4 linked regions of the Homo sapiens genome follow. The protein of the gene in region 1 interacts with the protein of each later gene in a biochemical or structural test. Each region holds a gene or a part of one and is shown on either strand. Other genes may lie near its edges.

Evidence for each region.
Region 2: the proteins of COL4A1 (region 1) and PDGFB form a complex in vitro, tested with the Homo sapiens proteins (one study listed by BioGRID).
Region 3: the proteins of COL4A1 (region 1) and PDGFA form a complex in vitro, tested with the Homo sapiens proteins (one study listed by BioGRID).
Region 4: the proteins of COL4A1 (region 1) and BGN form a complex in vitro, tested with the Homo sapiens proteins (one study listed by BioGRID).

The regions. Positions count from the first base shown.
Region 1 is NC_000013.11:110,297,147-110,304,168, reverse strand, and holds part of COL4A1 (collagen alpha-1(IV) chain isoform 1 preproprotein), read left to right. Parts: intron 1-7,022. UniProt on the Homo sapiens protein: Type IV collagen is the major structural component of glomerular basement membranes (GBM), forming a 'chicken-wire' meshwork together with laminins, proteoglycans and entactin/nidogen.
Region 2 is NC_000022.11:39,227,981-39,235,002, forward strand, and holds part of PDGFB (platelet-derived growth factor subunit B isoform 1 preproprotein), read right to left. Parts: intron 5,545-7,022; coding exon 5,455-5,544; intron 3,848-5,454; coding exon 3,642-3,847; intron 2,249-3,641; coding exon 2,104-2,248; intron 1-2,103. UniProt on the Homo sapiens protein: Growth factor that plays an essential role in the regulation of embryonic development, cell proliferation, cell migration, survival and chemotaxis. Potent mitogen for cells of mesenchymal origin.
Region 3 is NC_000007.14:516,840-524,071, reverse strand, and holds the start of PDGFA (platelet-derived growth factor subunit A isoform 2 preproprotein), read left to right. Parts: upstream 1-4,225; 5' UTR 4,226-5,003; coding exon of another isoform or gene 5,004-5,070; coding exon 5,071-5,133; intron 5,134-5,742; exon of another isoform or gene 5,743-5,767; coding exon of another isoform or gene 5,768-5,869; intron 5,870-6,084; exon of another isoform or gene 6,085-6,213; coding exon of another isoform or gene 6,214-6,273; intron 6,274-6,581; coding exon 6,582-6,678; intron 6,679-7,232.
Region 4 is NC_000023.11:153,497,974-153,504,995, forward strand, and holds part of BGN (biglycan preproprotein), read left to right. Parts: intron 1-6,643; exon of another isoform or gene 6,644-6,647; 5' UTR 6,648-6,658; coding exon 6,659-6,896; intron 6,897-7,022. UniProt on the Homo sapiens protein: May be involved in collagen fiber assembly.

The sequences.
Region 1 (7,022 bases):
CTGCAAGCTCTTTATATTAATAGATGGAATTGGACTAGGGTGAAGGGACATAACTTTAAGACCAACCAGAAGACACAATGTTCATGTACTCTGACTAGATTCACAGAATTATCAATGCTATATATTATTAATAGTCACGTGTACACAGGATGAGTGTGCTTTAGGCACCAGAGGACCTTACATTTTATACCTGCTTTTAAGCAGATGATTTGGGGGTACTCATCAAACTCTATACCTCAGTTTCCCTGGCAGGTCTGTCCCTTCCTCACACGGACCCGTTTGTGCCTTCCTTCATTCCACACACACATCGGGAACACCTCCTTCCTGCCATGACCTTGCCAGGTGCTGGCCATGCGGCAGGGACTCACCCCCACTCTCTGTCCTCAGGAAGGTCAGGTGAGAAATATTGGAAAAGAAACAGACGAATCCAAGTCAGGCTGGTAAATGTCACAATCAGGGGAATCGAAGGGCTATAGGAACACTGAATCCAGCTTTGGGGAACTCAGAGGAAACTTCTGGGAGGGGCTTCCGCCTCTGAAATATGAGGGAGAAATAGGAACTATACACCAGCATGTCATTTCCATGTGCACTGTGATGGTGTACTATACACAGAAGACATGGTCATTCTGCCTGTCTGCTCTCAAGTCTAAGGGTCTTTGCACTGAAAGATGACCTTCAAGTTTGCTCCTTTGAGATACCAAAATGTCATTGTTTCTGTGATTAACAATCTTGGTGGCTGAACTTTGCTCTCAGAGGGGTGGAAAGAATTGGAAGGGCAGGGTTTAGGAGACCAGTGTTAAAAAAGAGCTCCCAGCTCCAACTGAGGCCCCAGTATGTGGTCCTGTCCCTTTTCTCGGAGGTGGCAGGTAGGCAGGCAGGGGATGTTTGGAAAGTTGCGGCATGGATGACTGATTCTAGTCAGGAGTGCCTTTAGGAACTGACCCAGAAAACCTACCCTTACTTGGGCCAGGCCATGAGGGAATTCACAAAACCCTACATTATTCATTAACAAGGCTGTTGGCAAATTTCTGAGAACTGGCAAGGATGGTCATAACAAGTTCAGTTATTTAGTTAAGAGCTGGTAAAGATTTTGCAGACAAATGGAACCCACCAGTGATGATCTAAGACAAACCTTTGTAGACAGTGGAAGAACATCAAGAAGTGGCTAAATGACAACAGTGGTTTTGATGAATTCTATGATATTTGTTATAATAATTGTTCCCCAAATTGAAGAAGGATTAACCTCATTAAAATGTCTCACAAGGAGGTTTGGTATTTTGAGTTCTTGGGCTAGAGTCAGCTCAAGCAACAATAGAATGCCTAAAATAATGTTAGAGCATTGTTCTTCCTGCTATTATTAAGCAACCATGAAAAAATGTCAACTATAGAACAATACAAAAGACATATTCCTACCATTCTTATGCATACAATGAAAAGGGATGTCAACCAGAGCATGTTTTAATGGTGAATTTCTTCTGAGTCTTTTGACACTGTAGGAATGACTTTGGGGTGAAGACTTTGATAGTCTGGTACACAGTGAGCTGGTTCCAGCCTCGTTTCCCTCCATTGTTCTCCTGGTCCTAACTCTGGGACATGGGTCCCTCCTAGCGCTCTTTCCGTGTCTCTGCTTCTGTCTTCTTCCTCTTCCCATGCCCCTCAGTGTGGGTGAGCTGCAGGGGCAGCTCTGCGTGGTTCTCTTTGTTCTTTGCACTCTCTAACTTCCACTGGGGGTCTGCTCCATGATGCACCATTACTCCCTGAAGGGGACTCCAGAACTCCTTCTTGAACTCCAGTTCAACGTCTTCACATTTCCACGCGACGCCTCCCCTTGGCTGTCTTGCTTTGATCTCAAACTGAGCAAATATGTTCAGGACTGAACTCATTTTTTACCTGGACTGACAACCCTTCCCGACTCTGCCATTTTGGTCCTGGTGCCCTCTGATGTTTCTGGGTACAGAGCCCAGAGACTATGAGGCTTTAGCCTTTCCTCTTCTTTATCCTCTGCATCTGCTCAGTCACAAAGTCTCCTACTTCTTTCTGGATGCTTCCCAGAGGTGCCCGCAGCTTTCCCTTCCCACGGCTGGGACTCCCTTCCAGCTCTCTTTGCCTTGTGCCAGGATCACCACTGAACCCTCATGGCCCTGCCCCTCCTCCCAGCTCTCGTGCTCTCCAGCCCATTCCTCAGGCTGTGAGAGGCTAATTGCCCTCAATTCCCTAAGTTATGGTCATAGACTTGCTGGTTCAGGATCTGCCATGGCCACCTACTATCTCACTGGGGTTCCCCCTCTTTTTGGCTTGGCTGTGCATTCCCTTTGTGGTACGGATCTGTCAAATTTTTCTGGCCTCGTTCCTTGCTACTCCTCGACATACGGCTTTGGTAACTGTAAGGAAGGATAATCTCTGCATTCCACAGAAGCTGTTTCATCTTCTCCTGCTCCCCGGCCTGCAGTGTCCTCTCGTCTTCCCTCGGCTAGCACGCATTCCACTGAAGCTCCTGAAACAGTTCGCAGCCTGCCCCTTTTCCACGTGATCCCCTCTCGAGTCAGAGTGGTAATGTGAAATATTGTTGACTATCTGGATTTTAAAAAATCCAGCCTAAATTGCAATTCTTGCTCTGCCATTCAGTAGCATTGTAATCTCTTTGAGCTTGGAGTCTCTAATACATACAGTGAGGGTAGTCGCCATGTCTAGGGAGAGCATGTGCACATGAAGTAAGCACTCGAGCGGTGCTGGTTGTGGTTGCTGCCACATGGCTTGGAGTTACATTGTCATTTGTGTCTTGGTTCCAACACTTGCCAGGACATAACTTCTTTTTAAAGCATCCCACCATGTTTGGGAGAGTGCCCGACACAGAGGAGGAAATCAGGAATTAATTACTTGTAATTGGTTCCAATTTTCTAGCTGCCATTCTCTTGGGAGCCCCCTCCCCACCCCCGGAGTGTCCTAGAGGGAGCTGCCTGCTGGCTTACACTGTCCACCCCTGTGGTATTACTAGTGAACACAAAGATGAATCTGGGCAAACGAAGGTGTTTCCCCTTAATTTGGAATTTGGAGTAGATATTCCACCACAGACTAAACATGACTTGGAAATATGTACACTGCTGAACACTTTATGTAAATAGTTTATTCCGTGGTTTAGTAATTTTCTCTGTGGAAGCTTTGCTGGATTTGGTTTTTAATCTGCATACTATAAAAACATTTCATTTTATCTGAGTTTTAAAGCTCACTTGATCTTTAAGGTACAAGACAAATGCCAAGTGTCCAAATCAGATATTAAAGCAATCTTTTCCAGGCCACTTGGGCTTTTGTGTTTCTGTTGTTGTACCTCTTACCTGATAAAGGAGAGCTATTCAACCTCCTCATCTTCTGTTGCTTTTAGAATCAGTACATTGTTCAGTTGTAAAATTACCATTGTTTAGTAATACATACACATACACATCTTAGTGTACTGTGGCCACTGATTCCAGCAAGGACCACAGCCAGAGATACTGGCCGTGAGCTGGAAGCATCCAGTTTGATGTCAGTTGCTCTATTTTCATTTCACCAAATACACCAACAATTGGGGAAGCCATTTGTGTATTCACTCATAGAGAGTGCAGCTAACTTAAATAAACATTGCTCAATTCAGCAGAAGATCTGGAGGCACACTATTCCTGTATTGGACACAATTAAAATTGTTTAAAGATTTTATTAAGTTTCTGCTTTAGAAAACAAGGATATTCCTTTGTGAAGAACAAAACCCAGTGTGTTCCAGCTGTAATTCAATGTTTTGAAAGCTATTTCCACAAACTTTTCCCAGCAGCCACACTCATCCCTAGAGATGATCCACATTCAGAAGAAAATGACAGATGATGCACGTTCAGAGGAGAATACTATGTGTCTTCATTGCACAAAGATAAACCTTGCCTAATCCTCACATTCAGCACATGGGGCATTTTTGAAGGTACTAGGTCAGTATTTGTTCTCTGTTTCAGCGTTGTACAGATAAACTCAATGATAACCATTTTGGTATTGTTTCCTTCATATTTATTAAATAAACAATATTAATATCTAATCTAATTGGTGGAAGATTTGGCTATTACATCTCTAATAATGCTTTATTTATATGTATATTACTATGTAATATAAAACAATCAAAATTTATTTTCAGATCCGCAGTTCCCTTGTGTGCAAGTAATGCCTGATTTCTGAGCACAGTGGCATTTATTTTCATATCATCCAAGAGCACCAGCTTTGAAATGTCATTTTAAAATATAAGCAACTCTTTTTTATCATTAGCTTGAATTTTTGAGTTGCATTTTAGAGTTTTTTAAAGAATGCAATGCCATTTTAATGTTACAGAATTAATACTGAGTTGTGTGTGACGTATTTGCTACCACCAGACTAAGGACCCTACGATTAGTCTGGCAAAAGAAAAGTCTGTTTCTCAAAGAAGCTGGCATTAACGGGTCAGACGTGCACACGACTTTTTGGAAAGGCGATGGCAACGTCTCAACTACATCCAGAGAGGAGACAGTCCAGGGACACACTGGTTGTGCACCAGTCACAGGCCCTGCAGGGAAATGTGTGGGCCCTGGTCTTCCTCATGTGTATGATGGGGATGAGGGCAGTTGCTTTCCTTAGGGAGCAAATGTAAGGATTAAGTGAGTTAATGTCTGTGAAGCATTTATACCGAGCTTGCTTTGTGCCAGGCACTACTCTGTTAAATTAAAGACAAATTCAGAAGCATAAACAGCAAAGTAATGACATCAAGACCCCTTGGGGCTGGAAGGGCCCACACAAGGATCTCCTTCAGCCGTTGTCCAACATGAGCTCACAGCAGCATCAGCTGGAGGGCTCCACGAAACAGCTCCAGAGCTTCTGTTTTTGGAGGTGTGGGGTATGCCGAGAATCTGCATTTCTAGCAGGTGAGGGTGCGGCTACTGACAGCCCGACTTCTTTCACTGAGGCCGCCGCTTGAGCAGCCTTAGGTGCAGGCCTGCAGTGTCGGGACGTTAGTTTGCACTCACTTTGAGGCTGAACCCCTGCGTGTAACATGGCCCTCCCCGTTCTCTTTGTCTTCTTTTTCCGTTGATTTCTGCTCCTGCCCGCAATCCCGGTTCCAGCTGTGTGGTGCAGTTTGGAAGGTCAGATGGGCGGGGGAGGAAGGTTCCAGAAACATGCATGTGGCGTGTCAGGAAGTGGAGGCTCCTGAGTGGATCTGGAGAGGGCTGGGCTGATGGTAAATGAGCACAGCGGTGCCTGGAGCAGACTCTGCCCTCCGTGGCTTTCTCCCCTCTTCGGGAGCCTGGCGTGGGTGTCTCAGAACTGATCTGCTTTCAGTCTGAGTTTTGCCATCCTCTGCGGCGAGCCTGCGAGCTTGCACACTTGGGCAGGATGCGCTCAGCGCCCTAGCTCAGAGGCCGACCCAGGGCAGAGCCAGTCAGCGGGCGCTGGGACGCAGGACTCTGAACATGGGTCCTCTGCCTCCCTCCCACCTCCTCCAGGCCCGGCCACTCGGCTTCCTGGTGAGGAATTCTTAACGACCGCCAAATCCGGTTTCTAGAGATAAAAGACGGTTGAAGGTTAGTGGTTTAAAATAACTCCTAAATTTTGGTCCGGAAATGGCCTATACAATGAAGATAAACTTACCAAAGCAGGAAAATGGGTCAGTGATGGGGGAAAATACCATCCACGGAATGGTTAGTTCAGCCTCAGCATCCGATTTATTTCGGACACATACACAAACCCGGTCCAGAATCAATAATATTAACTGGAAAAGGGGATGACACGGTTTTTATTACGTAGGATATGTAGTGGGCGATCTTCTTGAAAGATTTCTCATTCCTAGCTTATCTTTAACAAACATGTTTTTCATGTAAACATTATGCTAGCGCCAGATGCTTTTTATCAATTGTTAAAGCCTGTCTAGTCTGACTAAATAGCCATTGGGCGCCTCCATAATAATTAGATTTTGTTTTCCCAAATACTTGAAAATAATAAGATTGTATTTCTTCAGGAATTTAGGCTTTTAAAACTTTTTTTAAAAAATTCTATAATTCATACTTCTTTATTATTTCATGTTGATCATAGATATTTTCTCTTTTTTCCATGGAGGTTATCATCAATTAATATATTATGATATATGGATTTTTTTTTCTCTTGACTAGATCATTTATTTAAAACATAAATAACTTTGGGTATTGTCCTAGGCGAGAAGCCAATTTGTAACCAAAGGCCCATTTCTCTCTCTCTTTTTTTTTTTTACATCAGCGAAAGTAAAACAAGAGTAAGAATTCACATGAAAACAAAGTAGGAAGTAATAGTTTGATAGCTCAGTATCTTGCTTTTGGCCTTTAAAATTTGTTCAGTAAGTGTGTGTTCAGCGCTTACTCTGAATTAGGAAATATGCAGGTGGTTGGAATTGTTCTTATACTTTGCATTCGGACATGTGCCTGAGTTAAAGTGAGAATAATTTTGGTAATGGTATGATAGATGTTACGTTGAAAATTTAGCACTTGCACTGTTCTCTTCTGGCTCCAAATCTTTTCATTTAAGTTCTGAGACTGCAAAAGGCATCAGTTTCAGACTCTGGAGTCAGATGAGATGGATTTGAATTCCTGATGACAGTTTTAGTGATGGATTTTAATAATAAAATTAATAAAAATAAATTTATTTGCCCAAACAGCAACTAGCTGTTTGACTTTGGGCAACCTTCTTAACTTCTTTGTGCCTCAGTTTCCCCATCTATCCATGAGGGATAATAACGTATTCCTTTATTGTGTTGTGAAGGTCGCAGACACGATACTGGTAAATGAGTGACTGCCATATCATAAGATTTCATGCTGTGAAGTAGATCTTTGGTCTTCCTCTTGTTTCCTGGCATACAATTCCTGAAATTCTTGGAATCCGAAGTGATAAGTGTCTTTGTATGTTAATGAGTTGACTGGTGGCTGGCCCCCCCACCCCGCAGCTTCAGAGTTAGGCTGGTCCCTGGGAAAGACCAAGGCAGGCTAAAGGATGGATTCAGCCCCACTCACAAC
Region 2 (7,022 bases), on another chromosome or scaffold:
CAGAGCCTGGGCCATCAGCAGGACACTGGGCTATACCAAGCCCAGGCAAGCACAAGGTCACCACACAGCTCAAGTGACAACACGCAGATCTGAGCCCAGGAGGTCTGACACTGACCACATTATCACAGAGAGCCACACTACCAAGCCTTAGCCAGGCCCATGGACAGGTGACAGAAACACCGTCATACTCAACCAAAATACCGGAACTAAAATGATGGGACTTTACATCATCTACGTTTCACTGGTATAATGCGCCTCCCAAGAAACTGGTTTAGAAAATTACGTCAAACAAATACATGAAGTAACTCACTCTAAACATAAAGAAGGCCAGGCGTGGTGGCTCAATGCCTGTAATCCCAGCACCTTGGGAGGCTGAGGTGGGAGGATCACTTGAACCCAGGAGTTAGAGACCAGCCTGAGCAACGAATCAAGACCTCATCTCTACAAAAACTTAAAATATTAGCTGGACGTGGTGGCACATGCCTGTAATCCCAGCTACTCAGGAGGCTGAGGAGGGAGGCTCGCTTGAGCCCAGGAAGGAGTTCAAGGCTGCAGTGAGCTATGATCATGCCATTGCACTCCAGCCTGGGTGATGGAGAGAGACCCTGTCTCTTAAAAAAGAAAGAGGCTGGGCGTGGTGGCTCACGCCTGTAATCCCAGCACTTTGGGAGGCCGAGGCAGGTGGATCACTTGAGGTCAGGAGTTCAAGACCAGCCTGGCCAACATGGTGAAACCCCGTTTCTACTAAAAATACAAAAATTAGCCGGGTGTAGTGGCATGTGTCTGTAATTCCAGCTACTCGGGAGGCTAAGGCGGGAGAATTGCTTGAACCCAGGAGGTAGAGGTTGCAGTGAGCCAAGATTGTGCCACTGTACTCCAGACTGCGTGACAGGGTGAGACTGCCTCAAAAAAAATATATATATATATAGATATATATAATTTTCCCTTAATAGAGAAATCACCCTCCATATTAACTCAATAATTTACAACATGTCAGTTTGAAGCTGTCATATGATCAGCCTTTCCATGGCATCCAGCGACTCAGCTCAGCTCTGGGAATAAGACACAGATGCCAAGAAATGGCTCCGTCTTCAGGGTCTTGTTAATAAGAAATGAGAATGAAAAGATTGTCCTGTCCCTAACAATAGAAAGTTACTGAAAAAGAACTATCACTTACGTGATTTTTTTAAACGCTCATCTAATCGTATTAATCATTTTTTTTTTGAGGCAGGGTCTTGCTCTGTTGCCCAGGCTGGAGTGCAGTGGTGCCATCACGGCTCACTGTAGCCTCGACATCCCAGCCTCAAGCGATCCTCCCACCTCAGCCTCCTAAGTAGCTGAGACTACAGGCGTGTGCCGCTATGCCTGGCTAATTTTTGTATTTTTTGTAGAGATGCCTCACAATGCTGCCAATTCCACCTTGCACCCCTGACTGATCACCAGCTAGCTGTTCTGCATATGGAGCTGAAATCTCTCTCCAGTGGCTTCTCCCCACTGGTCCTGGTTCCCCCGCTCAAGGATACGAGAAATTCGTTTGATTTCTCATCCCCAGGACAAGCTGCTCACTATCGGAAGTTGATGTGCGCGGAGCTTTCTCTCATCCAGGCCCAGATTCCTTCCACCATCCCATCCCCACATCCAACAAAGCAGGGGGCTATGGTAGCAAGACTGGAAATGGCGCTGCTCTGGATGGGGTGGTCAGGGCAGACTTCTAGGAGGAGGTGACTTCTGAGCTGAGACTCTAATGAAGAGAAGGAGCTAGGCTTGTGGAGAGCTGGGAGAAGTGTTCTTCAGCCACAGCAGTGTGTGCTAAAGCCTTGAGGCAGAAACTCCATTAGTTACTGAAAGAGGCCTGCCCGGCGGGGGTGGCACAGGTGAAGGGTACTGGTTGGCAGAGACCAGAGAGCCAGCCAGGGGCTAATCCTCATGTAGGGCTCTCAGGCCAGGGAGGAACCTGGCTTGTGTCTCAGCAAGATGAAAAGAAAGCCTCCCGTGAATTTAACCGGGGGCGGGCCTGATCCCATTTCCATTTTTAAGACCGGCCCCTGCCCCCAGCTGCTGCAGGGGAAGGGGGCTGAGGGCTGAGCCTGGAAAGGTGGTTACCTCGCTGCTCCTGGGAACCCCCCGGGCTTCGGGTCACAGGCCGTGCAGCTGCCACTGTCTCACACTTGCATGCCAGGTGGTCTTCCAGCGTCACCGTGGCCTTCTTAAAGATTGGCTTCTTCCGCACAATCTCGATCTTTCTCACCTGGAGGACAGAGCCACAAAATGCCTCTGTAGAGACCACACAGCCAGGAGCCCGGGAAGCCCGAATGGCTTGCGCTTCCCACCCCGGTGTCCCCTGCAGCAATCTTTCCTCGAAAGCCCGGAGAGCAGGCTGTGGGGCAAAAGCTTTGGCCCAAACAATAGCAGGACCTTGACCTCTGCCCTTCTCGTAGCTTTTCCATCAAAACAAGCCCTCCCGACCTGGGGCCCCCCTCAGTGCCCCCAGAGAGGGACAGCCAGAAAGGCATTTCCGGGTTGAGCTGGGGCCTGCGGTATCCTCATTCCCGGAGCGCCAGCCAAGGTCAGGGCTGCGGCAGAGGCGGGAGATGGTTGTCTGGAAGGAAGTGGGGGGAGGCTTCATCTAGGAGGGAGGTGGGAACGGGGAGGTCAGATGTCAGGTGTCCATCCATAGAGCTGGAAGCATCGAGGACAGGAGATACCACGAGAGTGGGCAGTGGGGTGGAGTGACATTCGTAGTCTCAGGCGTGGGGCCCAAGCCAGGGAGGGAAGGTGGGCAGGAGGAGAGGCCACGGGCTGGTGGCAGGAGAAGGAAGTGCGGCTAAGCAGGCAGAGCATCGGGCAAGGGCCGGTGCTGAGCTAGAGAAATGCGCACTGCCCAGCCTGTGGGCGAGGCTGGCCTGGGGCGTGCAGGAATCTTTCCACAAGAAGCAGAAGCAGCAGCTTCTCTGACTCTGCCCCGACTAGGGTGAGACCAGGGTGCTCCCTGAGACAGCCTCTACTCTAGAATTTTCCCTGAGTCCAGTGTATGTATCCCCCGTCCCTCCGAAGAAAAGCAGGATCAGCATTCCACTGTTGTCAGGGGACCTGCCCCAGCTCCGCAGTGTCTATCACCTGGTGGGCCTCTCTGCACTCTCTTTATTAAAGACACAGCTTGTCAAAGAGAGACAAGCAGGTGTCAAAGATGCAGGGCCACCCATCTGAGCCTTTCTCAAGACAGCCCTGAATAGGGAGAGCTTTGGGGGAACCTGAGTAGCTCCCCAAAACATTCTGAGTGTCAGATAAATGTTTGCGGATACGGCTCTTCAAGGGACGTTTTGCGATTTTGTCCTTGTAAAGGAGGTGACATCCCTACTTCACGTTGGCTCCACACCTCGCCCAGCCCGGGGGGTCTGTCTGTGGCTTTTGGCTACAGTGGCCTGAGCCACCTCAGAGGACTCATGGTCGGCCTCAGTCCACCTGCCTAGGAAGAGCTTCCCAAGAGTGGGCCTCTCTGGACAGAGCCCAGGAACAAATCAGGAATGTCCTTCGACACACCACTCTGCCCAGTCAAGGAAGCCTGGTCAGGTATGAGCCCCAGAAGGGTGGTCTCCACCCACCACCGGGACCAGCCTCGGGGGGCCGCGGAGCCTACGCACCTGGACAGGTCGCAGCTGCACCTGGGTGGGGCGGCACTGCACGTTGCGGTTGTTGCAGCAGCCGGAGCAGCGCTGCACCTCCACACAGGGCGGCCACACCAGGAAGTTGGCGTTGGTGCGGTCTATGAGGCGCCGGGAGATCTCGAACACCTCGGTGCGCGTCTTGCACTCGGCGATCATGGCCGGCTCAGCAATGGTCAGGGAACCTGGGAGGAGACGAAACCTGGGTCAGGAGCGTAGGCCTGTCCAGAGTCCCCCCACTTGGCAGGGGAGCTCAGCGGGTGCCTCCGGGACTGCTCTTTCTCACGCCCTTCAACCCCAGGGTTCAGGTTTCAAGTCCTGGCTGTCATTAGCCATGGGACTTGGGCAGATGGCTGAGCCACTCTAAGCCTGTGTTTCCCCATCTGAAAATGGGACCATGAGATCTACACCCAAGAACCACTGTAGTTTCAAGTGAGAAAATTCAGAGTGTGGGGCATGTTGTAAATGCTTAGTAAATGTCCGCTTCCCTCTGCTGGCACATGACTATTTTATTCTTCTTTATGATTTTACACATTTATGGGCTTGCCCAACATGTGGTTTTTATGCAGGTACCATATTAGCTCGAAACCACGCGTGCACTGCTGTCTCACGGTGCCTTGGATTCCTGCATCACTGCTGCTTTCAAAGCCTCAGCTTCCTCCTCTATGAAATGGGATAATAACAGCACCTCCCTCCCATGTGGATCTAAGGTGTAAAGTGAGTAAGCCTTGCCTACAGCAAGCACTGAGGTTACCGATGCTATCCATGTACAGAGGACAGGAGGCTCTGAGAGCTGAATATCCCGTCCGCCCACATTCATAGATTGGGGGTGGAACTCAGGCCACCTGACTTTTTTCTTTTTTTTTGAGACGGAGTCTTGCTCTGTCGCCAGGCTGGAGTGCAGTGGCGTGGTCTCGGCTAACTGCAACCTCCGCCTCCCTGGTTCAAGCAATTCTCCTGCCTCAGCCTCCCAAGTAGCATGGACTACAGGAACCTGCCACCACGCCCAGCTAATTTTTGTATTTTTAATAGAGACAGGGTTTCACCATGTCGGTCAGGATGATCTCCATCTCTTGACCTCGTGATCTGCCTGCCTCAGCCTCCCAAAGTGCTAGGATTACAGGCGTGAGCCACCATGCCCGGCCCAGGCCACCTGACTCTTATTCATCGTTCCCCCAGCCTCTAACTGCAGTGTTTTGGGGACTCCAGGTGTCAAAGAGGAGGAGGGGTTTGAGTGGACATTTGCCTCACCTGGGAGGGTTTCTCTGGGACCTAATGATCTACGGTCTCCTTTAGGTCTCTGCAAGGGAGCAGGAGGAAGTTCCAGGCTTTGCTCGAGGTCTACCAGCCTAGGCCGCGGCCCTTTGCCACAGGAGATACCCATAGCCCATCAGGGACCACGCTGGGTTCAAGTGAGGGGAGCAGGTTGGGATCTCAGCCCTACCGCTCCCTAGCAGTGTGACCTCGCCTAGTTCTTTACCCTCTCTGGGCCCCAGTTTCCAACTCTGTGAAATGGGGTTAATAATATCTACCTCCAGGATTGAAATAAGGAACGAATGAGCTTTGCAGCACTATATTTAGAAACCAGAGAGTGTGGGGGCGAGGGGCTGTGATGACTGAACACAGGCATTTAAGGATGGTTTTACTCTCTCAGTTCGCTCAGTCCTGAATGTGGGGGGAACGGGAGTTGTAAGAGGACCCTCGGGGCCCTCCGACTGGCTGCCCGCCCCCGTTCTCTTTCCCTGGCCCCCATGCTAATTTGAAGGACCCTTGTTGGGTGTCTCAGTCTTACCCAGGCTCCTTCTTCCACGAGCCAAGCTCTCCAGCTCGCCTCCAGAGTGGGAGCGGGTCATGTTCAGGTCCAACTCGGCCCCATCTTCCTCTGCAGGAGAAGTCACAGTCAGACACCAGGCGGCCCCACCTTGGGCAGGGGCTCCCTCCGCCGGGGTGTCTGGGCAGGCGGGAGGTTTGCCTCTCCCCCACTCCAGAGAACAGTCCCTCCTTCCAGCCCCCATAAATGCACGGGTCCTGGCCCTGAGCAGGGACCCTCCAAGCAGCCCCCAGGACAGCTGCAGGCCCAGGATCCTGACTGCATCCCTGGCTCTTTAGCCAACATTTTTGGCCAGAACCCATGTCAGTGGAGTTAAAAATAACCCTTCCCCTTTGCTACTGTAAGTGAACCCTCCTCGGCCTCCAGGGCGGGGCCGGGACCTAGGGCACTGAAGGCCAGTTTCCAGTGCCCCTCCACCCAGCGTTCCCATAGGAAGTGCTGAATGGAGAAATTCCCAGAAGCCCCAGGGGGACCGCATGCCCTGAACACAGCCCCTCTGGAGCCCCGGACAATGGCCGCGCTGGGCAGGCGGGAGCCACGGAGGGAGGGAGGGAGGGAGAGGGATGGGGGTGGGAGCTGAAGACAGAGAAGAGGAGAAGAGGGGTGGGAGTTGGGCCTGCTGGGGGTGGGGAGTCCCTGCCACACACCCTTCTAGGGCCTGGTCTCTCTAGCTCCGGGGCCCTCACACCGTATCTGTATCTGTGTCTGTCTCCCTCCCCTTCTCTAAACTGTTGCCCCACCTCTGCCCCCAGCCGTCTGTTGATTCCTCTGGTCACAAATGACAGCTCCCTTTTCTAGCCTGGGCACCATCTCAGTCCCATCAGCCCTCCTTGGAGACATCGGTCCTTTCCAGAGCCCATGGCCAGAGGTTGGCTGCTGGGAAGTGAGGGCTGAGGGAGGCCTCTGAGCTGGATGTTAAGGCGTGGACAGACCCTTCTGTCTCTCTCATGGGTGAGGAGCCACAAATAAACTAAGGGGCATTGGGAACACGCTCCTGCCACCTCCACACAGCACCCCATGGCTCCAGTTCTGGCACCGACCCACTGGCCCCATCCAAGACAAAGGCGCCTGCCGCCTGTCCGTCCCGGGTACTGCAGGGAGTCTGATGACTAGTCCGCTTCCGTCCAGCCTGACAGCCCCTACGTCAACGAGCCTATCTGTCCCTCTGGCTCCTTTCCTTTCTCCCTGCCATCTCTGGAATGTCCCTGGTGGGGAGGAGATGGGGAAAAGATGCGCTTTGTGGAAAGGTTAAGTTGATTAGGAAAAAATAGCCACATGGTTGCCTTGAAACAGGCCTGCTATTGAAACCTCATCTCCAAGATCCCGACCCCCACCAGGGGTGTGGAGGGGCCGTCTGAGGGTGGGGGTGTAAAGGCTTGGAAAGAAATGGTAGAAAGGCTAAATTTGGAAGTTGCCCCATTGTGTGTGGCCAGGGGCGGCCAGTCGGGCATAGGGTGGGGGTTGTGGGAGACATCGGGTGGGGGCCCTGGCGAACAATAGGTGGGCCCAGCTGGGGCCCCCTCCTGCCT
Region 3 (7,232 bases), on another chromosome or scaffold:
GTATTTAAAATAAAATGATTTAATAGGGAGTTAAAACAACATGGAGAGAGAGCCTTCCCACCCTGCTGGCGGGGCAGTTATCTCCCTTTCTGGAGAGTGTGAACTGGAAAGGCCTGATCCCTAGTCGCTGGGGGCCTGAGATAATGACTTAATTAATGCCTGCGCTGGGCAGTTTTGATCTTCAAGGAGTCCAGCCCACTCGGCTGGTGTTGCTTTTGGATTAATTGCCTAGGACGAAGAAAGCCTTGCCCAGAGATAAAGGGAAACGTGGGGTTTCGTCATTACAAATTGTTCTGAAATCTGCTCTGGCGCTGGGGGCAGAGGCCAGGATTTGGGTGCTCAGCTGGTCCCCCCACCCCCAACCCAGGTGCAGGCAGGTGGCCAGCAGGGCGCTTGCCCAGGGCACGCTAGCGCAGCTTTTCCTGGGCAGGTGGGCAGGAGGGAGGCTTCCCGACAGTGGAGGCAGCTGTGTGCAGTGACGGCAGCTGTGTGCAGTGACGGCTGTGGGCCTCACGCTTTTCAGATGAGGGAACAGACACCCAGGGCAGTCTAGGGACAGAGCTCACCAAGGCCAAGGTCAAGGGGCAGAGAGCGGAGGGAACTGGCCTCTGCCCCCCTCCCTGCACCTTGGAACTGGGGATCCAGGGGGTGTTGGCTGCCGCCCCTACTCCTGGGTGGCCACAGCGTCTTTCCTGTTCCTGCCTGTACACCCCACGTACAAATGCCCCTGCGAATTGAGGATAGTCTATATTTACCGAGGTTGCAGAGGTACCCCTGGGGTGCTGAGCCCCGCTCCAAGTCTTCGCTTAGAGTTGATGCGTGAGTGTCCATGAAATTATACAAGGAAAGAGCTTGGCACCTGGCGCCATCGACGTCGCTGTAAATGTCAGCCGTTACTACTACTACTAAATAACAACGACGGCGATCGCTGCGTGCCTGCTGGTGCCAAGCCCCGGAGGGGCCCCGGACACGCAGCCTGGGTGGGGATGGGTATGAGGGGGCAGCGCTGGACTCGGCGAAAGTTTCTTCCCCTCTCCAGTCCCCTACCCAGAGGAATGGCCAAGGCCTTTCCCGCCCTCCCTGGGTGCCAGGGTCTTGGGGAGGGGCGGGAGGCAACCAGTCCCGGGCAGACGTCCGGCCACCCGCCCCTGCTGCGCGACGGCCCCCCTCGCTCGGCCTATTTGGGGCACCTGACTCACGGTAATTATGAGCCCGCGGGCACGTCGGGGCGCGCCGGGAGAGGCCGGATGCACCGGCTCCGGGGGCGACCGGACATCCCAGGCCGCCAGGTGCACCTTGCTTCCCACCAGCACCTCCCCGCACCCGCCGGGAGCTCCCCGCTGCTTCCGCCAGGGGCCCCGGGCTCACCTCGGGGCGCCCACGGACTCCCAGACGCGCGCCTCAGCATGGGGTGCGAATGTTTCGGGGGCGGCGCGCGGGGCGCGTCTGCCTCCCGCACAAAGCCAGGCTCTGTCCCGGGGTCAGCGCCTCTGTCTCCCGGGCCTGGGCGGGGACGCCCACGCCTCCTCCGACGCGGGAGTATATTTAGCCTCATTATCAAATGTTTGCAGTGAACTGTGTGAACCGACTAATAGCGGCTGGAAGTGAAACTCGATTCCTGGCCAGAAAGAAGCATGTGACCGCCCCCGTCTGCAAGGATCGCGGCAGGGCGGGCGGGGCAGGTGCCGCAGCCTCCGCGCGCAAAACCCGCCGGCGGGGCCCGGGTCGCACCGTCCCCTCCTGGGCCGAGCACCTGAAACCCACCTCGTCCCTCCGTCCCCCTCCCCAGGGGCTGCAATGAGGACGCTGGGAGTTTGAATGGAAACGAAGGCCGGGGAGGGGGGTCCGCGCGGGCGTGGGTTTTTTATCCAAGTCGGTGACCTCTTGGTTAAGTCAGCCCTGCGGTTTCAACGCCCAATCCCCCCAAAAAAGCCTGTGGGGGTCCACGTCTCCTTGTGTCTTCCGGGGATCCGGCGGAGAATGTGGCGGGGCCGGGCAGGGGGGTCCCAGTCCCACGCCGGGTGCGTCGTGCCCCGAGTCTCCCCAGAAGGCGGCTGTCGCGCGGCTGCACAAGTTTTCGCCTCCCTCGCGCGGCCGCTGTTGTTGTGGTCGCCATGGCGACGGGTCGCGGTTTTATTTTTAATAGCGGCCGGCGATTAGAGAGATGCCTGCACCGCTTTCGCCTAAGCTCTGCGTCCCCCGCGGGTGAAGCACCCACGCCCCGCCCCAGCCCCCGCCTCGCTCCAGCGCCCCTTGCACGTCCCCAGGTGGCCCTAAACTCTAGCTGGGCGCACCCGTAGCTCCAGGCCGGGCAGGGGAGCCGAGGGAAGCAGCCATCTAGGCCCTCAGAGGCGGCGAGGACCCCCAGGATCCCTCAAGCTGGGAGGGACGGGTACCCCATCCCCAATACAACGCGACCTTCCTCCTTGCCTTCCACACCGTCTTACCGAGTCCTCTAACCCCACAGAGGTGTCCTCGGGCCCCCTCTGCGCGCGAGCAGTCCGAGGCCCAGGAAGACAGGATGCGCGCCACTCCGGGATAACTGGCCGAAGAATGAGGCCGGGGTCCGGCCTGCGTCCTGGCCCTGCGAGTCCGGCTCTTTCCAGAAGCCATGCAGTGGGTGTCCCCTCCCAAGCCGCAAGTTCCCCCTGGAGGGACAAGGCCTGGCTTTAAGGGGCTCCTCCACGTTTCCAAGGCTCCCCTGGTTCTGTCCCGGTCCCGCTTGGTCCTGACCACCCAGAGGGCATGCTTGACCGCGGGGGTCGTGGTGTGGGGCTGCGGCCAACGGAAGGGAGAGACGTGGGGAGGGGGCCTGCAGGTGTGTGGAAGGGCGCGTGTAGACGCGACCCACTGGGAGCGGAGGGAGAGGCGTCGCTCCCCAAATATTTGGGGGAAGGGGAGAGCCCCCGAAGCGCTCTCCGGATTCGGCCTTTGAAATGCTAGAGCTGGCCTAGCTGGGGATGAAAGACCGCCCGCGGGGCTGCGCCTTAACGGCCTTTGTCTGGAGGGAGGGCGACCGCGACGGGGGCAGGGGTTTAATCGACAGGGTTGGGGGTGACGGCTGGGCCGGGCGGGATTCTCCGCTGCTCACCCAAGGAAGCGTCTCCTGGGCTCCAGGGGCCTAGGCCGTCTAGCCTCGGGGTCTGCACAGCACGCCACCCCGCTGGACCCGGTACCAGGACGCGTAGACCCCCTGGCAGGGCACTGACGAGCACCTGGACCTGTAGTCAGGGTCCAATCCCTCCTGGTCTAGGGAGGCGAAATCCATCCAGCCCAGGCGCACCCGCCCTTTCTCGGCGTGGGAGCCGTCTAGCCACGCTCAGACCTCGGCCTCCGCGCGCGTTCCTCCCCCGCATCGCGCTCTGAGCTGCGCCTCGGCCGGAGGTGGCGCTCTGTGCGCCCCACGGATCCCGACGCGGGAGGCTCAGAACCCGGGGGACCCTCACCGGTGGCTCCTTTCCCTTCCATCCCCTCGACTTCCCGGCTCAGGGCGCGGCCCTGCCTTCGGCGCGGGAGTGGGGGACTGGGGGGCGCGGGGTCCCAGGGTGGGGACGAGGCGGGCTGCAGGCCCTTTCCCCGACTGGAGCTCGCTCCCAAGTGGAAATGTGGGTGGAGGGTCCTCATTCAGATGCCCCAGGCCTCGGATCCTGGGCGGGGGCGCGTGGCAGCCGCCAGGTGAGTGCCCCAAACCCGCCCCCCTCCTTCCCCAAAGACTGACTCCCCCTCCTTTTATGGAGAGAGGAAGGCTGGGGCCCTGGATCCGAACCGTGGAGAGCGGCCGGAGCGCCGGGGCGGGGGCGGGGACCGGCTCTCTGGCCCTTTTTGGCGCAGCAGCTCTGGGCGCTGCCCGCTGCCGCCGCTGGGGCCCGAGAGAGGCGAGCCGGCGACGGCGGCGCTTCTGCGGCGGCCTCCTCCCTCCCCACCCGGTGCCGCAGGATTGCAGCTGGCACTGGAGGGTGGGCAAGCTCGAGGGAGGGGCGCGGAGCCCCGGCGCGGAGCCGGGCGCGGGGCTTTGATGGATTTAGCTGCTTGCGCGAGCGCGTGTGTGCTCCCTGCCGCGGCGGCGGCGCCCGGGCCCTGCCGGGTCCGCACGAACCCCGAGCGCTTCCGAGGTGCGGGTCCCAGGCCCGGAATCCGGGGGAGGCGGGGGGGGGGGGCGGGGGCGGGGGCGGGGGAGGGGCGCGGCGGCGGCGCTATAACCCTCTCCCCGCCGCCGGCCGGCTCCACACGCGCGCCCTGCGGAGCCCGCCCAACTCCGGCGAGCCGGGCCTGCGCCTACTCCTCCTCCTCCTCTCCCGGCGGCGGCTGCGGCGGAGGCGCCGACTCGGCCTTGCGCCCGCCCTCAGGCCCGCGCGGGCGGCGCAGCGAGGCCCCGGGCGGCGGGTGGTGGCTGCCAGGCGGCTCGGCCGCGGGCGCTGCCCGGCCCCGGCGAGCGGAGGGCGGAGCGCGGCGCCGGAGCCGAGGGCGCGCCGCGGAGGGGGTGCTGGGCCGCGCTGTGCCCGGCCGGGCGGCGGCTGCAAGAGGAGGCCGGAGGCGAGCGCGGGGCCGGCGGTGGGCGCGCAGGGCGGCTCGCAGCTCGCAGCCGGGGCCGGGCCAGGCGTCCAGGCAGGTGATCGGTGTGGCGGCGGCGGCGGCGGCGGCCCCAGACTCCCTCCGGAGTTCTTCTTGGGGCTGATGTCCGCAAATATGCAGAATTACCGGCCGGGTCGCTCCTGAAGCCAGCGCGGGGAGCGAGCGCGGCGGCGGCCAGCACCGGGAACGCACCGAGGAAGAAGCCCAGCCCCCGCCCTCCGCCCCTTCCGTCCCCACCCCCTACCCGGCGGCCCAGGAGGCTCCCCGCGCTGCGGGCGCGCACTCCCTGTTTCTCCTCCTCCTGGCTGGCGCTGCCTGCCTCTCCGCACTCACTGCTCGCGCCGGGCGCGCTCCGCCAGCTCCGTGCTCCCCGCGCCACCCTCCTCCGGGCCGCGCTCCCTAAGGGATGGTACTGAATTTCGCCGCCACAGGAGACCGGCTGGAGCGCCCGCCCCGCGGCCTCGCCTCTCCTCCGAGCAGCCAGCGCCTCGGGACGCGATGAGGACCTTGGCTTGCCTGCTGCTCCTCGGCTGCGGATACCTCGCCCATGTTCTGGCCGAGGTTGGTGCCGCCCCCGCGCCCCGTCCCTGCGCCGGCTCCTCCGGCGCACACCCCCCGCCGGCTGGGGCGCCACGGGCTCTGCAGAGAGCGTTTTGGTTCCTGCCAGGGTGGTCGATGTTTAGATTTTCCCAACTGGGTTCTATTTTCTGCCATGCCTAAGTGTGTGTGGGGAGTTTCCAGCGTGTTGCGTCGGTCGCTCTGCCTCGGGGGGACCGGGGAGCAGCGAGGTGGACGAGTGGGCAGAAACTTCGGGGGGCGCAGTGTCCTCTCCGGGGAAGGGGAGCTGGGGCGCAGCGGGCGCTGCAGCAGCGGGGTGCGGGGAGCGGGGAAGGGGGTGTGTGTGAGCCGGCGGAGCCTGGGGAGGAGAGAAGGGCGGCGGATAAATAGGTAGGGGCGGCTGCTGCGGAAGCCCCTGGCCGGGCAGGGTGGGCAGCGCCAAGCTGCAGCCCTCGGTTCCCAGTCCCCAAGCCCGGCGGGGCTCAGGGCCGGCGCAGTCCCGCCCGCCCGGGCCTGCTTACAGGTGGCTGAGCGAGGCGAGCTGGGGCTGGGCCAGGCGTCCGCACCCTCCCACCGCGGCGTCCCCGCCCCCCCATCCCCATCCCCATCCCCATCCCCGGGAGCTTTGCTGTGATGAATGACTTTCCACAGCCCCCGTCGTGGGAACTTAGTGCTTCAGGCTCCCCAGCGACCCCCGACTCTCCTTAAAAATCGGGGAGGGGAGTGGGGGAGGCCAGAGGTGAGGGTGGTCTCCGCAGGGCACGGAGAGCTGCGCGAGGTGGAAGTTTAACCCTCGCTTTCCCTGGAGGCTTCTTCTCCCGGCCGCCGGCTGGATTTGGGCGTCTTAGTCGGCGCTAGGGCCGCGGCTGGGCCGGAGCCCGGGGTGGGGCGAGTGTGTGAGTGAGATGTGTGTGCGCGTGTGTGTGTCTGCGCGCGCGTGCGTGTGTTTGTGAGACGGAGAGACCTCTCCACGGGTTCGGCCCGGGATTCCGGGGCGTGAAATTTAAGCCCTGCCTGGATTAAAGTGTTAGGGCTGCCGTGACTCTCGCCGACCCGTGACGCATTTTAACTTGATCTTTCTAGATGTTGATCTCACTATTAAATCAGAAACTTTCGGCCCCCTCGCTGCCCCCTAGACCTTCTGTAACTGACACCCCGGGTGGAGGGGCCGGAGTGCGGGGGCTTTTGTCTGAAAATATAAAGGGGGGGGGGCTTTGATTTTGCAAAGGGCGGAACATGGATGCGGGTGGAGAATTTGGGGTCTCTTCCAGCCCCACCCCCGGCTTCTGGTTCCAGGGCCGGGGCGAGGGCTCCGCGGGGGCTGGGGCGGGGACTGCGGCCGGCGCTCGCGGGGTCTCCTCGGGCCCGGGGCGGCGGCGCTCCTGGCGGCCGGGGGCGCGTGCCGGCGGGGTCGGGGCCGCGGGCGCTGACCGTGTGGCCTCTGCTTGCAGGAAGCCGAGATCCCCCGCGAGGTGATCGAGAGGCTGGCCCGCAGTCAGATCCACAGCATCCGGGACCTCCAGCGACTCCTGGAGATAGACTCCGTAGGTAAATCGCGCCCCTTCCCTCCGCGCGCGGGGAGGGCGCGGGCGGGCGGCCTGTGCGCCCCGAGCTGGGGCCGGGCGGGGCGCCGCGCAGGAGCGCACCGAAAGGTCAGAATCCAATCCCCAGCCATAAGCGCCCGGGCGGATGAGTCAGGAGTTTCTCTTCCAGTCTCCACTTTCTCTCCCAGCGGCGGCCGAGGGCTGCTCGCTCGCCCCGGGATTGTTTTCGCCTTTAAGGAAAACGCCGCGTGTGTCACACAAAGTTCAGCCGCGGCCTCCGCCAGGTGTGCGGGCCCCGCGCCTGCCCTCGGGCCGGGGGAGCGGCAGGATCCGGCCCAGACCCTGGGCGCAGAGCCCTGGCCCGTGCGCCGGGCGGGCAGCCCGCGGAGCGAGGCCCCAAGGGCAGGCGCGGCTCCCGGTCCGACGGGCGGGCGGGCGGAGGCGGCCCCCGGGTCAGGGCCCGGCCCCCTCTGTAATCCCTGCGAGCTGGTGCCGCGTTCTTGCCGCAGGGCTGGGCCTCTGTGGCTGCAGAAGCCGGTGTCTTTCTGTTTTCACGAC
Region 4 (7,022 bases), on another chromosome or scaffold:
ACTGCAGAACCCTCCCACTCCCAGCTTCCCACCTGCGCAGCTCTGATCCCAGCCAGCCCAAGGGGCAGGGTCAGGTCCCGGCTCCCTGGCAGGCCTGGTGAAGGTGCTGCCCATTCCCATGAGGCTCATCTCTGAGGCTTAGGGGCCTGGGGCTCTAGCCAGCCTTCTTGCATGGAACTCTCCTGGTCCACTGCATCTTAAGCCTGAGCTCCACTTAAACACTGGCCTGAGATAAGCTGGAGGACCAGGGGCCCAACGGACTCTGTGGGCCTCTTGAACTTGCCTCTGCTGGCCATCCCAGTCCTGTTTGGTCCCTGAGGTGTTCAGATGGGCCAAGGGGAGCATGGCGGGCAGACTCCTGGGTGGCCAGAAGATTAGAAGGCAGCCCTGTCCCTGGAGGCAGGGGAAGTCTGGGAAGCCAGTGTGACTTCTATCCTCTGGAAGTCTGAGTCCCTGCTTGGCCTTGACTGCCATCCCATGGTTCTTGGAGGCTGCCCTCATGCAAAGAGACACACACCCATGGGAGCCCAGCAGTCCCAGGAGCCTGAAGCTAAGCAGGCTGTGGGCCACCCTGGCTGGCTGAAGGAGGCTAATCCCAGCCCAGCCTGAGCCCCCGGCAGAGAGCGGGTTGCGGCAGGGAGGGGCTGCAGGAAACCTTCCCCTCCCCTCCTGGCCTTGGTGGGCCTGTACCAGGGAGGGAGGGAGGCAGGGCCCCAGGCTCTGGGGGGCAGGCCGGGAACACCTTCCCTGGGGCCCTGAAGTGCTCGCCTGGGGAGACGATGGCTTTTCCAGGAGACTCCCTGCAGACAGAGGCAGAGGTGAGAGGCTGGGCGGGGGCTGCCCTGCTGGCTGTGTTGGGGCTGAGGAGGGGCTTCTGGATCTGTGGGCCATAGGGAGCTACTGATGGTCCTCAGAAGGGCCATGCTTCCAGGGGAGCCCCCTGCACAGCCCCGAGAGTGTGAAGCGTGTCAGCTTTGGGGCCTGTGGCACTGTGTGCATTGGGAGAGGGTGGGTCCAGACATGGGGGCAAGGACACAGACGGACAGACAGACAGTGTGTGCAGCCCCAGCTCTGCTGTTTCCTCACCGTGTGGCCTTGGGCAAGAGTTTGGGGCCAACTTCCTGAGCCTCAGTTTACCCCTTCATCAAGTTCTAAGAGCATTGCTTCCTTCTTATAGTCAACGGGGGACGGCAGGATGCTAAGTAAAGAAATCACATGAGTCCCCTGCTCTGCCTCTGAGAGGTGACAGCATCCTCCCTTTTCCTTGGAGACTCTAGCAGGAGGCCCCGGATCTCTTCGGAGAGTGGGAGGGGGCAGCAGTAGTCCGTGTGCAGAGGACCAGGAGCGCACAGTGGGAAGGGCTGAGTCCCGCACTCCGCCGACTGTGGGGACAGGCTGGACCTTGACATGGGCGCCACAGGCTGCAAAGGGCTGGCACAGAGAGGTGGGAGGTGGCTGGGCGCATCAAGGGAGAACTCCACCCTTGTCGCCACCCTGCCAGAAAACCTCTGGAAAGGATTTGAGCAGCAGATGAGCCGGGGTTTCCCAGCCCCTCCACACGTGGCTGCAAGGGGAGCAGACGCCCAAGCGTGGCTGCCTGAAGGGCATGCTCCGGCAACGGCAGGGGCTTGGAATGTGGCACAAGGTCCACCCCTCCCCACTCCAGCCCCCAGCCCCTCAGGCAGCCACTCCCACAGATGAACGCACACGCCGGGCTTTGGCAAGGCCAGGGAGGGTACACATCCCCTCTCTGGTTGATGCCCAAGTACAGGCTGGAGCCATCGGCGGGGAGGGACTGGTGGACTGGGGCCTGGGAGAGTGGCAGGGGGCAGGCCGGGTGTCAGCGGGGGCACAAGCACCAGGCTGCTGGTTGAAACTGGGCCCAAAAGGCTTTGGAGGCCAGAGGGGAGGGGAGGAAGGACACAGTCCCGGGGACCCCGCAGGGCTGCGTGGAAGGTGGCACATGTGTCAGAGTTCAGGTCGGGTTGCTCAGGGGGGCAGACGCCCAGGGCTGAGGCTGCGGAGACAGCATCCGGCGTCTGCCACTTGGCAGCTGTGAGCCACACCATCTGCAGGCGAGCTCCCAGGGCCCGCCAGACCTCAAGCCCTGCTCCCGCCGCCCTTGGCCTGGCCTGAATGCCTGGCACGGACCCTCCATGTTCTCAGAGGCTGCCAACGCATCTTGTTTGGCTGTGACCTCGAGCAATCCAGTGCAGAGGACTGCGCTAGCTTTCAGAGGGGCAGACAAGGAGGGCCCTATTGGGGTGGTGGCGGAGGCTCCAGGAAGCCCAGCCTCCTCCCTCACTCACACCTGCGGTCGCCAAACCTGGGGCTTATGCCATTGCCGCCCCTGTCCTTTGCTCTAAAGAGATGGTATCCAGGGAGCTCAGGGCACACTTTGGTGGGGCTTGAAACCCTCCCTGAAGTCCCTGAAGACACACCCAGAGAGGCCAATGAAGGGAAACTGAGGCCCAGAGGCCTCAGTTGTGGTGGTGGAGAGTTGAGGACTGGAGGGACTTGCTGTGGGTCTCACAGGATCTGACTATGGGGTATTCCTGCTTCCTGGGCTGGGGTCCCCGCCTGCCTTATCTATGTGTGGATATATGTGTATGTATGTGTATATGTATACATATGTATATGTGAATGTGTGTATGCATGTGTGTATAGATGTGTGCATGTATGTGTGTACATATGTGTATGCGTGTATACAGGTGTATATGTGCAGGTATGTATGTATGTATGTGTGCATGTATGCATGTGTGTGTGTGTGTACGTGTGTATAAATGTGTATGTGTGCGTGTGTGTGCATGTGTGTGCATGTGTGTATGTGTGCATGTGTGCATGTGTGTATACATGCATGCATGTGCGCATGTGGATGTACATGTGCATGTATGTGTATAGATGTGTGCATGAGTGTGTGTGCATCTGTGTATATATGTGTGTATATGTGTATCATATGTGTATGTGAATGTGTATACATGGGTATGCATGTGTGAGTGTCTAGGTGTGTGCATGTATATGTGTGTACATGTGTGTATAGGTGTGTGCACGTATATGTGTGGATGTGTGCATGTATGTGGATGCATGTGGATGTGTGTACATATGTGTTTTGTATAGGTGTGTGCATGTGTGTGTGCACGTGTGTACATATGTGTTTTGTATAGGTGTGTGCGTGTGCACGTGTGTGTATGTGAGCGTGTATGTGTGCATCTGTGTGTGTGTTTGTGTGTGTATGTGTGTACGTGTGTGTGTGTGCATGTTCTGGCAGGAGGGAGGGGCTTGGTGTGAGGTGGTGGGGAGAAGGCAGGGGCCAGGCTTTGGGAGGACAGCTGAGCCTATACTGCCAGGACCTCCCAAACTGCCACCCCCAGTCTTGGGCATTCAGGCTCTCACAGGCCCAGAGACATGGCTGGAGCCCTGTGGCTGAGGAGCACAGCTGAGAGCTCAGGCGGGGCCTGGAGGCGCCAAAGCTGAGTTCCAAGTCAGGCTGAGTGACTTGGGAGAAATCAGAGCCTCTCTCTCGGCCTTAGCTTTTGTGTCCATAAAATGGGGATACTCATCAGGCCAGCTCCAGGGGATCCTATCCTTCCCCCCAGGCTCCCCTGGCTCCCTCTGACTTCATGGGCCCCTTGCTGCCTCCTGTGGGCTCAGACACGGAGCCTGCCCCTTCCTCGGGAGAGGTCTCAGTTTTGTGCCAGTTCTTTGAGGGGAAATGAGGGATGTGCCGGGAAGCCTGCCCGGCCCCCGCCCCTCCAGCCTGCCCACTGCTTGGGCACAGCCATGAGCCATGGAAAACCAGCCAAACCTTGTCCTTCTGCCTCTGTCACGGGGCCCGGGTGTATGGGCCTTCCAGCCCTCAGCCTCCCTCCCCGCTCTGAGGGAACCTCTTCCCCTTGCCCCTTTCTCAGTCTCTTGGAGACCCCCCAGACATCCTACTGTATCAGGCAGCCTGCCTCCAGAGCCCTCGTTGCCCCACAGCTGGTCCCGGGAACCCGCCTGAGACCCCGATGGCCAGTCTTGCCGTGACTGGCCTGCCCTGTGCCTGTGCCCCCTGCCCTGGTGGAGGGCCCGATTCCCTAACAGGAGGGCCTGCAGGGAAGTCCCAGCTCCTGGGGAGACCCCTTGCCCCGGGGCAGGAGTCCCTGTAGAGTCCTCCTCCAGGCCAATGCGTGGGTCCTGGGGGGCTCCAAGCTGGCCATGGTCAGATGGTCCTCTGTCCCCTCGGCCTTCCCCAGCCCCTCCCCACAGCCTCCCGTAGGCCCAGCCGGACCACCCCAACCCTACCTGTCCAGGTGGACTGCCCACCCTGGAGCTTGCCAGGGCTCTGGCGGGGTGTCCCAGCCCTGACTCACTCTCCCTGGGAGGTAGCGGCTTTGGCAGGGGCATCGGCAAGGAGGGGCAGGGCAGTCTCCTCCCTCCCCCACTCCATCTTGCTCTCCTGCTTCCACCCTGCCCTTCCTGTTCTCTCCCACTGCTCCTCCTCCTCCTCCTCCTTCTGCCCCCGGGTGTCCACTGGCACTGGGAGAGGGTCCTACAGCGGCAGCAGGCATCGGAGGCCCTGCCCTGCCCTGGAGGAAGGGAAACACCATCCAGGTAGGTGAGTGTTGAGCCTTCTCCCTACTTGGGGGCCAAGACCCTCCGGGCGGTTCCCCTAGGTTCTGCTGGGCCGGCCTGAGGCTGGCAGGCCCTGGGCTGCAACTGTGGGATCTCAAGGCTCAAAAGAATGAGGGAGGCTCGGTGCTGCCCCAGCAGGGGCCTCCTGGTGACCCCAGGGGTCAGCATGAAGTCCAGCTCCACATGAGGGGGAAGCTGAGCTAAGCCTTGGGCTCCGACTCCCACTTTGCAGTGTGGCCCAGGGCCTGTGGGCTCAGGAGGGCTCCGGGGCTGGCTGCGGAAAGGCCACTCCACAGGCCTGGCAGCCGCTATAGCCACAGCCTCACCACAGGCCCCTCTGTCCACAGGTGTGGGAGGGCGCATGGGTGGCTTCTAGGGGGGATGCCAATGCAGGGGGGACGCGTGCCAGCAGATGCTCCCTGGAGCACCCGAGGAGCTGCATGGGGGCGACAGGACAGGCCTCCATCCCAACCCTCTCCTGGGCTTGTGCTCAGACCCAACCTGGCCCTGAAGTGGCCTCAGGCCCCCGGCCCGCTGGTAGCAAGGACTCCAAAGCGGCAGCCCCGGGCAGCCAGCCCAGCCCCCAGGGCAACTGGGGAAGCATCGGGCAGGGCGGGGCTGCTCATAGGGTGCTGGCCTGGGGGCAGAGCCCCCACCTCCCCACGGCCTCCTTAGACCCCTGCAACCAGCAGCTGGGCTTAGGGGGCTCACCTCGCTCTGCTGGAGCCCCAGACAGCCCCTCCCCAGCTAGTACTGGCCCTAAGTGAGGGTCTCCTGGGCGTGCGACTGCTTCAGGTCTGCCAGAGGCCCCTGCTGCCCAGCTGGGCTCCCCATCTCCAGATGCACCGAGGGCCACCCCAGGCTGGGTGGCAAGCAGGGCAGGCATGTTTATTCCCACTTAACAGATGGGGAAGGTGAGGCTGGGATGAGACCTGGGCCTTTGCTGGAGAGTCAGGGTGGATGAAGTGGTGAGAGAGGCAGGGCTCCAGCCTCTTCCTGTAGGGCACATTCCCGGCTGCCTCTGGACGGGAGACCGTGTCTGATGAGGAGGGAGGAGGCAAGCAGAGGTGGGTGCTGGGGGCAGGCTCGGGCAGGGCTGCTTCGCCTCCACTCCCACTCGCCGCCTCGGCCTGGGGGGCCTCAGGCAAGCCTGACCCTGCCCTGCCACCCTGGCGGCAGCCTGCTCCCCTGGGGGGCCTCTCTGGGCTGCCGAGGCTGTGGGCAGGGAGGAAGGGTGCGAGCAGATCTGGGAGCTCCAGGGCTGTTTGGGCCAAGGCGGTGTGGGCGGGGGGCTGGGGCGGGTGGTCCAGAGGAGGAAGCCAAGGCCCAGGGGCAGTGTTGGGGGCGCCACGGCCTCCACCTCGGGGGCCTCCACTCAGTGCTGCCTCAGCCAACTTTACCCACGGCCTCCAAGGATACCCCCTCTTTCTCCGCCCTGCCTCCCTACCTTGGCCTTAGAGGGTCTCTGAGAAACGTGGGCAGGGTGGAGGGAGGAAGCAACTCAGAGTCGCCGCACTCAACTAACTTCATCCACGCTGCCCTGAGCCCAGAACTCAAAGGAAGGATCGGCCCGGGTAGGAGGCCACAGTGATGTCCCCAAAAGTGAATTCTTCAAAGCCCTTGAGGGCCAATGGCTAGGATTCCTCCTCCACCTCCTCCACGCAGCCTCATGGACGCCCCCGCCCTAAAGCAGGCTTCTGGCAGACTCAGAGGCGTGGGGGCCTGCAGACTTGCTGATGAGGAGACATTTCATCGCCTGATTAAGCCAAGTCCTGTCCGGGATGGGGAGGGGGGTAGTGGAAGCAGTGAAGGGAGTGGAGTGGAGGGGGCACCCTCCTTGCCAGCAGCATCCACTCCCTTCCTGCCTGGAGCCCTCTGCCCACACTCCGCCCTCTCCGCCTCCCGCTCCAGGGTCTGGCCGTCCCTGGTGAGGGATGGGAACGCAGTGCCACCACACACGCGGAACACCAGCCCCTGGCATGGAGAAGACAGGTGGGTGCTGGTGCTGATGATCCCCTCGCCTCTTCCCCCAGGTCCATCCGCCATGTGGCCCCTGTGGCGCCTCGTGTCTCTGCTGGCCCTGAGCCAGGCCCTGCCCTTTGAGCAGAGAGGCTTCTGGGACTTCACCCTGGACGATGGGCCATTCATGATGAACGATGAGGAAGCTTCGGGCGCTGACACCTCGGGCGTCCTGGACCCGGACTCTGTCACACCCACCTACAGCGCCATGTGTCCTTTCGGCTGCCACTGCCACCTGCGGGTGGTTCAGTGCTCCGACCTGGGTTTGTCCCTGAGTGATGGGGAGCGGGGCATGCAGGGAGGCTCAGGTGCAGCCTGAGAGCCCCTTCTGAAGGGGACACATGCTGGTCCTGTGGGACGGTGGCGAGCATGATGTAAGTGTAGGAGGG